Linked DNA regions of Homo sapiens: region 2 is linked to region 1. The links come from fine-mapping of genetic effects on gene expression. A gene starts in region 1. The other region holds a variant in brackets. All regions are shown on one strand. Distances are from middle to middle. Region 1 holds the start of PLEKHG6 (pleckstrin homology and RhoGEF domain containing G6). Region 2 overlaps VWF (von Willebrand factor).

Evidence for each region. PIP is the estimated chance that this variant, and not a neighbour inherited with it, causes the effect. A credible set is the group of variants that fine-mapping cannot tell apart.
Region 2: its variant is the best candidate, but not a certain one, in a credible set for the expression of PLEKHG6 in esophagus mucosa (GTEx, PIP 0.62).

The regions. Positions count from the first base shown.
Region 1 is chr12:6,307,629-6,313,143 of GRCh38, forward strand. PLEKHG6 (pleckstrin homology and RhoGEF domain containing G6) reads left to right here and starts at 3,054. Exons shown (of 16, transcript NM_001384598.1): 1 at 3,054-3,220; 2 at 4,531-4,736. The coding sequence starts at 4,599. RefSeq lists enhancers at 1,868-2,588, 5,210-5,515 and a silencer at 2,951-3,000.
Region 2 is chr12:6,063,237-6,068,236 of GRCh38, forward strand. VWF (von Willebrand factor) reads right to left here. Exons shown (of 52, transcript NM_000552.5): 11 at 1,901-2,037; 12 at 1,010-1,148. Among named protein-coding and RNA genes, the nearest start is that of SNORA120, 26 kb to the left of the region's middle. The variant T/A (reference allele first, on the strand shown) is at 2,021.

The DNA of each region.
Region 1 (5,515 bases):
TTCTGGCCTGAGGCACCAGAGGCTTTGCCCTGTGGCCTGTCCTCCTGGTATTCATCTGCCTCACATGACCTGGCGCCTCCTAGCTTGAACCCTCAGTTTCTGCCTCGCTCTGGGCAGGGAGGACACAGCTCCCATTAGCTGCCTCCTGTTGCTAGTGCCTGCCAGCCCCTCATTAGCCCAGATGGTCCCCACTTCTGCCCTGAGAGATATGGGCTCAGCAGAGGTCGAGGCACAAATGAGTTTCCCTGACCTTCCTGCCTGGTGAGCCCCTTATGCCAACCCCAGGCAGTTATCCTCAGGCTGCTATTGGACAGAAGCATTTGATCCTCAGAGCTCTGACCGTGGACACACACTTTACCATCAGTTATGGGGTCAATCCAGGGGCCTAATGAGGAGCATCTTACCTGGGAGAAAGTGAGGCATATGACTCAAGCTAGACATGTGAGGAAAGGCTAGGATAACCAGGAATAAAGAGAAGTATCCAGATGGCATACTCTGGTCCAAGGACCAGATGGCCCCTAGCCTCACTTGGCAGAGGCCAAGCCTCCAGCCTCCCAATTCTTTACATTTCATTCAGCTCCCTGAGAATGCTCCCCTCAGCCTGCCATAGGAGTGTGCTCTCCGCAGCACAGAGGAGTCATGGAAGTGGAGACTGTGAGAGTGACAGAAGAGAAGAAACAGAACATGGAGGCCTGCCTCCTAGGCCACACACCTGTGCCCGGCCACACCTCTGGCTTCTAGACTCCAGCTTGCCCTGGGAACCTCTCCTCCCAGGGAGGCTGAAGACAGGCCCTGGGGCAGTAGTGGGTGGAGACTGGACCTCAACGCCTAGAGGGAAGTGAAAGGGTTAACCACCCCGCCACCCACCACCACCTGCCACTGGGCCCCTCTAGCCAGCTCACCCCAGAGCACTGTAAGCCCAGGCTTGTCTTTGGTGCTCTCTCAATTTCATCTTCCCTCTTATTCCTCCTTCCCACTCCTTCTGGGAGACACTGGGAGGAGAAGCTAGGGGCCATTGGCACCAGCTGTCTCTGGGGTGTCATTTAATACTGTCCGTAATCACCACCTCCTCTCCTGGCTTATTAACTCTTTCCCTCATGGCTACTCTTGTCATCCCTGGACATCTCTCTATCTCTGTCTAGCTCTCACCACACACACACACACACACACACACACACACACACACACACACACACACACACACAGTGAATGGGAAGAGGGAAGGGCTAGGAACTAGGCACACTCTGGTTTCTTGCCACTGCAGTTCCTTTCCCACCTGACTTCACCCCCGAAAACTAGTCCCACCACCAGCTGGGCCAGGAGCAGGAGACAGGCTGGTTCAAGGAGCTGGAGGAACAGAGGACACTTCTGAACCAGCAGAGCAATCACACAACAGCAAGCTCAGAGAAAGAGAATCCCAGAGGGCAGATTTGAGGATGGACACAGGGAATACAAAATTAGAAACTGCCCAAAGATATAGATTCCTCCTCCAAACAAAATAGAGTCACCAGAGTCCGAGTGAGGACTAGAACACTCTGATCATGTATGCGTTTCATAGCCTAGATGGGAAAAGGGAATAGAGGCCTTTTCCCCTGGCAACTCAAGGAGATTCTGCTTCTGAAAGTGTTTCCTGAACTTCAGGATGCTCTGAAGAAGTAAGGAGCCGTATCAATCACTGTTGAGTTCATTGGCAGGAAATAGACCACAGTCAGGGTGAGGGGCTGGGAGCCTCAGACCTGCCACCTGCCAACTACAGGGTCTTGGGTTTCATGGTTGTGAGATTATAATGACCACACATCCACAGGACACTTCTATCTCAAATATCCAGTGCTTCTGTCAGACGAGGTGCCATGATTTGGAGAAGTGAAAAGGTGGGGAAACCGAAGCAGGAGGATCGCTTGAACCCAGGAGTTGGAGTCCATCCTGGGCCACACAGCAAGATATTGTCTCTATTTTCTTTTTAAAAAATAAATTTTAAAAATAAAGAAAATAAAGTATGGTCCTTTCATGCAATGCCCAGCATGTGTCAGTCCTTCCACAGCATCTTTTTCTTTTTCTTTCTTTTTTTTTTTTTTTTTTTTTGAGATGGAGTTTCACTCTGTTGCCCAGGCTGGAGTGCAGTAGTGCTGTCTTGGCTCACTGCAACCTCCACCTCCCAGGTTCAAGCGATTCTCCCGCCTCAGCCTCCCAAGTAGCTGGGACTACAGGCGCCCGTCACCATGCCCAGCTAATTTTTGTATTTTTAGTAGAGTCGGGGTTTCACCATATTGGCCAGGCTGGTCTCCATCTCCCGACCTTGTGATCCGCCCGCCTCGGCCTCCCAAAGTGTTGGGATTACAGGCGTGAGCCATCGCGCCTGGCCCCACAGCATCTATTTTAGCAGCCACCGCAAGGGCTGGGTGACCCTGGTGTAGCCGGGAGTGGGCTTATTTGCAGGTGAACTGGGAGGGTGCCCCCACCTGAGTCTTAGGTCATAGGAGAAGTGCGGGTCAGGCCTCAGCTGCCTATCCCTGGAGCAAAGGCAAAGTCCAGGATAGCCTTCCAGTATCACCTTCCACCAGGCAGGCCAGCCGGTCCTCTGAGAGATAAGGCTCACACTTTGGACTCCACACAGCGACGGGGCCCCCTGCCCCTCCAGCTGGCAGGCGGGCTCCCTGCCTGCTTAGGGGTCTAGGCCGAGGCAGGGGGAGGACCGGACGGCCGGCCACTCGCCGCGACCAGCAGGAGAGAGGGGTGCCTGCCACAGGTTGTCACCCTCGCCGCCTCCCCCGGCGGCGCCCCGCCCCTTACTCAGCCCTCATTACTGCAGCGCCTCGCGGGGGTCTGGCCCGGAGTGGAGGGCGCGCGGTCCCAGCCCTCCCGCTCGGCCGGCGGGTGTCGAGTTCAGGTGCGACCGAAAAGGGGAAAGGAGGGCACCGCCACGTGAGCTGTCCTCTCCGGGGAAGGCGGTGGCTGCGTGAGGGCGGGGGCTGCTCGGTCCCCAGGGCCCCGCCCCTCTGCCCCTCTGCCCCGAGCGGTGCTGGCGGTAGGGAGGGGCCAGCCCGGTCCCCGCCCTCCTCGCCCGGACCCGCGCTGCCCGGCTCCCGCGGGCCGCTCGATCCCAGTCCCAGGCTGGGCATCGGGGCTGGCTGGCATCGCCGGGGAGCCGACGGCGACGGGGAGCCCCGCGGGCGGGGAGGGCGGCGCAGGGCAGCGGGTGCGGTGACACCTGTGGGCACAGGTGAGCGGCGGGAGGGCTACGCGGCCCGGGGGCGGGGCGGCCGGGACCCGGGGCCTGGAAGCCGGGGCGAAGGGGAAGGAAGGCCTGGCCTCCCGAAGGCGGGAGGAGGGGAGCCGGGGGCTGGGCTGAGACAGGACCCTGGGTAGGGAGCAGTGCGAGGGAGACAGCGCCCTCAGAGGGAGGACTATTGGGAGGCGGCAGGAGGGACAGCGAACGTTTCCTCCTCTGCTCCTGAATCGGAGGAAGGTAAGGGAGGGCTGAGGCAGGACCTCAGGCCCACCCGGTCGGGGCACAAACACCTGCGCAGCCTTCTTGAGCCCACCGCCCCTTAGGAGGCCTCTCCTCTTCCAGGCCCTGCCCACTCGAGGGCGGGCCCTCCCTCCAGGTTTAGGGGGGAGGGATGGAGCCCCACGCCTGGCCCCCAGCTCCATGGTGGTATTCCCAGAGTCTGGGGAGGACCAAATATATAGCCCGAAACTGGAGAAACTCTAATTCTATTTGGCTGGTCTCTAAGGGCAGTGGCCGGACAGCTGGCCCCACTCACCTCCCTGTCTGTGGTCAGGAGGGTTCAGGTAGGAGATGGGCAAGCCTTTCAGTAAAGGCCAGACAGTAAAGATTAGAGACTTCGCGGCCTACACCGTCTGTCCCAACTAGCAAGAAGCAGTCACAGGTTATTAGGAGACCAGCAGAAGAGGATGGATTCCAACAAAACTGTGTTTATGGACACTGAATTTGAATATCATGTAATATTTACTTGTCCCAAAATATTGGTGGCTTTTTTGCAGGGGGGGCAGCAGTTGTTTCAACTATGTAAATATGTAAAGGCTTACAGGCTGTACAAAAACTGGTGGCAGACTGGGCTGTCTCCAGCCACCCCCACTCCCAGCCCACCCCACCCACCATGGCCTCCCTCCAGCTTTTTCCCAAGCTTTATATGGGGAAGGGGATGGGGTTATATCTAGGTGCAAGGAGAACCCTCCCACCTGGGTGTATCCAGAAAGCCCGAGACCTGTCTGTGACCCTTGTTCCCATTTGAGACCAGTGCAGGAGCTTGTACCCCAAATATGCACACATGTGAGAGAGGAGGTACATCTCCAAGGGGCTTCCTACCCAATATGTACCTGGACCTACCCTACTCCCACCAAGTCATAGATGAGGCAGCCATGTTCCCCCCAACAAGTGACCAAGCCCTTGGCCCTCTCCTCCCCCACTATACCCTCCCTCCCAGGCCCCCTACCAGCCTTGGTCTCCCGCCTGGTGCCATTCACTGATTGGGGATGGCCCTTCCATTCCTCTTTTCTCTCTTGCAGCCCTAGGGGACCTCTTTCTCCTGGACATTGAAGATATGGCCCTTTGGAGGTGACCCAGGAGAGAAGGGATGAAGGCCTTTGGTCCTCCACATGAGGGCCCCCTCCAAGGACTCGTGGCCTCCCGCATTGAGACTTATGGGGGCCGGCATCGAGCCTCTGCTCAGAGCACTGCTGGCAGACTCTATCCCCGAGGATACCCTGTGCTGGTGAGTCCAGGCTGTGCCCCAAAAGTGACCTGGTGGGGCAGGAGGGAAGACACCTAGGCTGTGGAGTCTCTGTCCCCTTACAGGTTCAGAGGTTGAGCTATTCCTGCCCCTTACCCTACTCTTCTTTCCTGGGTTGCGGGAAAGAGGAGGGCAGTGACAGGGCCAGGCTCCAGGGATATCACACCCCAGTCCCAGCAGCTGGGCAGGAGAGGCGGAGCCAGGAGAAGCCAGGCCCTCCGAGGAGTGCTGTTAGACAGGTCTCAGACAAAGAGCTGCGGGTAAGGTCATCAAACCCCAGAGCTGGCGCCTCCCAGGCTCCCGCCTCTGCTTGGCAGGAGTTTGAGGCCTTCCTGAGATCTGCCTCTCCCTGAGTCAGGATGAAGATGAGCAAAGGTTCAGGGTGTCCCTACTCCTCCAGTGGTGGGTAGGGACAGGAGGGTGCCTGCCTTGGCTCCACCCCTGGCTCCACCTGCCTGGCTCTCCTCCAGTCCTAACCAAGCAGAGGGGTGTGGAAGCCAGGTCTGTCCCTCAGCCTGCAGGTTTCCCCTCCACCTTGAGGACAGTTCTGCTTGTGGCTGGGACATCCCCTGCCTCAATGCACGATAATTTTGCCTTTGGAGATGGGACTTTCCTAGGCTGTGGGTGAGAAGGGAGACTAGAAAGTATGTGGGGTAATTCAGGCCACAGGCAAATGAAGGAATGTGACCAGGCCTGCCCTGGGAGGAGCTGTGTGGCTGTGGCTTCAGCCTTTCACACAGAAGGGCAGCCACTCCCAGCTG
Region 2 (5,000 bases), 240 kb before region 1:
GGACAGAGCGCAAATAGGGTCCCCCAGGAAGAAGCCTCTGCACCCCCCGCTATGACCTGCCATTCCCCCTACTGCCACAGGAGGGAGGCAGAGGCTCCTGCATCCTGGGCTGTAGGCAGGTGCCCTGGAGCAGAGGGGGATCTCTTTAGCATTGACACCACGACATCTGAATGTGCCTGGGACACTCTGCCACTGCACACCACCTCATGTCTGAGCGATGCTGTGTACGACACTGAATACAGCAATTGTTGCTTCTGTGGGAAGGTGGCGACAGATAGGAGCACACCCCTTGCCCTGGGGGAACAAACATATCTTATAAGGAGACACACAGCATAACACCCATGGACGTGCTGGGTACCCACTAGCCCAAGTTCATCCGCTGTGTGCAATGCTAGGATAATGGGCGACAAAGTGGCCAGCAGTTGTGGAGAAGAAGGAAGAGTCTGAGAGCCACTTTGAGTGTGAAGTTTGGGAGCTTTACCATGCAAAAGCAGGTTTGCTTTGACCGGCACAGTGCAACCCAGGTGAAGATACTGGACAGGTAGGTTTTTTGCTACCTCTAGACAGGCCAGAGGGTCACCTGGCCTCGCCCCAAGTGGCATCCTCTGGTGTGACATCACCAGCCACCCCCGATCTCTCAGCATCAGCCTCTGCCCCTGTCCCACCCCAGAGCAAACCAGAACCACCTGCCCAAGACTCAACTCGCCCCTTTGGTTCAAGCCAAATAAAAATCCTCTCGGTTCCCTTTTCCCATCTACACTCTGTCCCAGGTCTAGAGCAACCTCTTCATCTATAGGCTTCCTTCTCTAGTCTTCCTCCTCCAGGAAGCCTTCCTTTCTTGGAGGGATGCATGCCAAGCACCCCACCCTGCCCTCCAAAAATAACTCTCCATCACATTCCCATGGAAGAGGCATGCAGGTCCTTAAGGACAGTGGCCAGGGTTGAGAAGGAGGGTGCTAAGGGATGGGCTGTGCCAGCCCCAGGCCTGATGGAGCAGGACGAAGCATACCTTTCAGGAGGGGGAGCTGGACGTCCTGGCCATCCATGGCAACTCCTGCCCCATGCTTCAGTTTCACAAGGCTGTTGTGCAGGCCAGGCAGCCGGACGGTGACGGAGCGGGTGCACACAGCGTCGCGGTCATCAGCACACTGCCAAGAGGGAACACAGGGTGACTTTGCTGCACCCCCTGCCTATCCAGCTCCCCAGCCCAGGACCCTCTTAATCAGAGAAAGGCCTCAACCCGAGAGCCTCTGGCCTTCTCATAACCTACAACTCCATTCTCCCAGAATACTCCATGTGAATGGGGCCCCCTAGAGTTGTGCAGCAAGAAGGCTTGCTAAGTGCATCCTTGCACACGCCTTCTCCCAGCCTGGCCCAGTCTCTTATAAAGAACCATGGGCCTCTGCTTCATCGTGTTCCTTGGACCTACTGTTCCAAAGAGAATCAAAGACTTTGATCCTCAAGGAAAGCCCTGTGCATTCTCTTCGTCCTCATCTTTGCTTCCATCCCTACAGAAAGGAAGCCACACATGTACCACAGAGTTCAGAAGAGAAGACCAGCCCTCTTTGCCCCCACCCCAGCCATCCCCAGCTCCAAACATCAGAGGGTTAGTTATGGGGGCAACAGGCTAGACCCAAGCAGGATGCGTCCACTGGGTGGGGAGCTGAGCCAGCCCTGAGGAGGCATTATTGTCAGGGCAGGATGCCTTCCGCCAGCATCTAGGGAGAGAGGGGATGGGCTGGGTTTCTGGATGAATGAGGAGCTAACTGAAGTCTGGAAGAGACCTCCCTCATGCACAGAAAGCAATGCCCCACGCCTTCCAGGGACTGCCCATTCAGCCTAGCAGCTATGCAGCACCTTGGGCTACCACCCGACCAGCAGCCGGGCTGGCAAAGCTCACCTGGACAGTCTCAATGACAATGGAGAAGGAGTGGTCCTGGCAATCCCGGGCCAGCAGGTACTGGCAGATCCCACTGAAGGTGAAGTATCTGTTGTCAAAGCTCTTGAAGTGTGATTGACC[T/A]GTGACAAGGCACTCCCCTGGAGAGACACAGAGGAAGGGAGAAGAATGGGAGGTGAGGGCACTTCCCCTGGGGTGGCCAAGGTGGAATGCATATGCAAGCAGGGTGCCCTTCCCCAAAACTGCATGGACGTCCTTTGCCCAAACCAGTCTAAAAACAAGTTCTACGAGAAAATTCGGTTCCTGCTCCTAAAACTGCAAGATGTCAGAGCTGGGTCATTCAGGTCAAGGCCTCATTTTACAGATGGGGCAACTAAGGAAGGTGACAGAGCCACACTCAGTCAGTGGTGGAACCACGCAGGAACCCACGCTCCTGCTTCCAGGCTCCCTGCAGCCTCCCCTCCTCCCTCACAGCTCACTGCCATGTCCCACGCTACCTGCTGGCATCAGGGCCACACCAGCCTCAGACTGGTGCCAGCGGAATGCCTGGCCAGGGGGAGGCTGCCCAATAGCACAGGGTTCTCTGAACCTGAGTGTGGAGAGGCTCTGGGAAACAGTGTCACCCCTGGAGAGTCCCTGGAGGCCAGGGGGCAGAGTAGGCAGCCCAGAGGCAGGATGAGGTGGGAGGGTGAGGCAGGACAGTCTTGGAGCTCAGCAGTGAAAATGGGGACTCCATCCTCCTCACCAGCAGAGGGGCAACTCTAAGGCCATTGCTTTCTGCGTCCTCAGAGGGGCAAGCCCACGCTGTGACTCCAGCCAGGGCCAATGGGGAACCAGGAGGCCATCTGCCCATGATCTCACCACCACCCAGGCAGTGCTGACCTCGGCAGCGCCAGCTTCCCAGCCCAGGCTGACACATCTGTGGGTGGGGACTAGGACTCCCCTTCATCACCCTGCAACCCAAAGCCCTCAGCTTGTCCCCACCCTAATTCCCACACCATCTCCCCCACGCCCCAGCCTAGGCCCCATACTTGTGGCCCAATGCACCTCCAAACTGAGATCACACATCCTGGAAGGTGTCCTGGCAGGGGGAGGCCTCTGCCAATGTCTCCAGTGATTCTCCATCAACCTGCCTGGCTTGAGGCAATCCCATCTTCAGGGCCAAACATGGACCCATCAAAGCTGAAAAGGGCATCTGGATCCCTTCCCAACCTGCCCTATATATTTCCTCCACCTGCTCTCATCTTTGCTATCTACTCTACAGAAAAAGAAATATATATAGAGAGAGACACCATTGCCATTTGGTGAAGGAGGAAGACTTTTCCCACCCAGTCACTCTACGGTGCATGTGTGAGTTCCTTTCTCTAAGGATCAAAGCAAAGATGAGGACACATAGAGTGCACAGGGCTTCCCCTGAGACCCTCCAAACAGCGGAAGCTTGGCTGTCTACAGCGCTACCTCAGCCTCCACCTGAAGTTCCCCCTTTGGGGAACAGATGCTAGACCAACGTTGGAAAGACAAATGTAAGAGGGTCCTACAGACCATCCTATGTGGGCCCAGCTCCAGGGGCTAATGCTAGCCCTGTCACACAGCCAAGGGGTCCCCAAAAGGCACAGAGAGATTCTAGCTTGTCAAGGACAAGCTCCACAGGCCCTCACTGTCTGGCACTTCATGCTCGCATGTGCCCTGACAGGCCCAGCCAGGGGCCAGGCTAGACTGTGCAGTACTGGACCCAGGTGTGGGCCTGCCTTTGAGATGTGTATGAAGGCAGGATTAAGGATGAGGTGCCTCAGGGATGTACACATCCCTCTGCCTGGTCCCCAGGACAGTGGATCCCTTCCAGGACAGCATGGGTCAGGAGGGCACATCCAGCCCAGAGGAAATTAGGAGAAAGTGGAAAGGCCCCAGATCACTCCCATCAGCATGGCCCACCTTCTCCGCTGCCCCCTCTAGAAGAGCGGGAGTGAGGAGTGACTGTTCGTGGAGGACAGAGCAGGCCACAAGATAGGGGCCAGGATCGTCCCAGCCCATTCTGGATGTGCTGTAATTTCAAGTCCAGTGAGGTCTCAGGAAAGCCTTTTTGAACTGACCATTTTTCAGAAATTATCATCATTCTACAAACACAGTAATATGGTCATTTGTGTCAAATGTCTTGACCCCAGGGCAGTAAAAATGGGTGGGAATTCTTCCCCCTGCCTTTCTGTGTTTTCTCAGAGCACTCTTATCTAAGCAAGAAAATGGACTTCTGTCTTCTTTAACAATACCCAGGAAAAGAAGGGTCAACGAGAAATGTGCAAATATTCGAAAGGAAAACTTTCAGGGCCAGCATCTAATCGTCTCATCTGATTTCCTTCTCTGACCTTCACTGACTTGTGTTCCCAAGTTTCTCGCAAATCAGAAGTCTAAATATTATATGAGCTTATCTCCTCGGTACAACTGAGCAACAGAGCCACAAACACAGGAAAATGGGTGGGTGAGCTGCCAGGTAGCCGTTAGCCACGGGAGCTAGAACGTCAGCCAGAACTATGGGCCATGCGAACACGCTCACCCATCCTCCACCCAGGATGGGACACTAGGATATTCCCCATCAGTCAGCAACAGGCAGCTCCTGACGAACAGCGGGCCCACCACTAGATGGAGATGGGCACTGGAAGTTTGGGGAATGAATGAAAGGCAGGTGATTCCTAAAACTGCATTTAAAAAAAAAAGAGCATCCAGGCCGGGCCGTCATGGCTCATGCCTATAATCCCAGCACTTTGGGAGGCTGAGACAGGCGGAGCACCCAAGGTCAGGAGTTCGAGACCAGCCTGGCCAACATGGTGAAACCCCGTCTCTACTAAAAATACAAAAAATTAGCCGGGTGTGGTGGCAGGTGCCTGTAATCCCAGCTACTCGGGAGGCTGAGGCAGGAGAATTGCTTGAACCCAGGAGGCAGAGGTTGCAGTGAGCTGAGATCACGCCACTGCACCCCAGCCTGGGCGACTGAGTGAAACTCTGTCTCAAAAAAAAAAAAAAAAAAAAATCCAGAAGTTAAAGCAGATCCATTTCTATGTGAATAAAGATCCTGCCTCATGAAAAAAAACAAAACGGAACCTCTCACCTA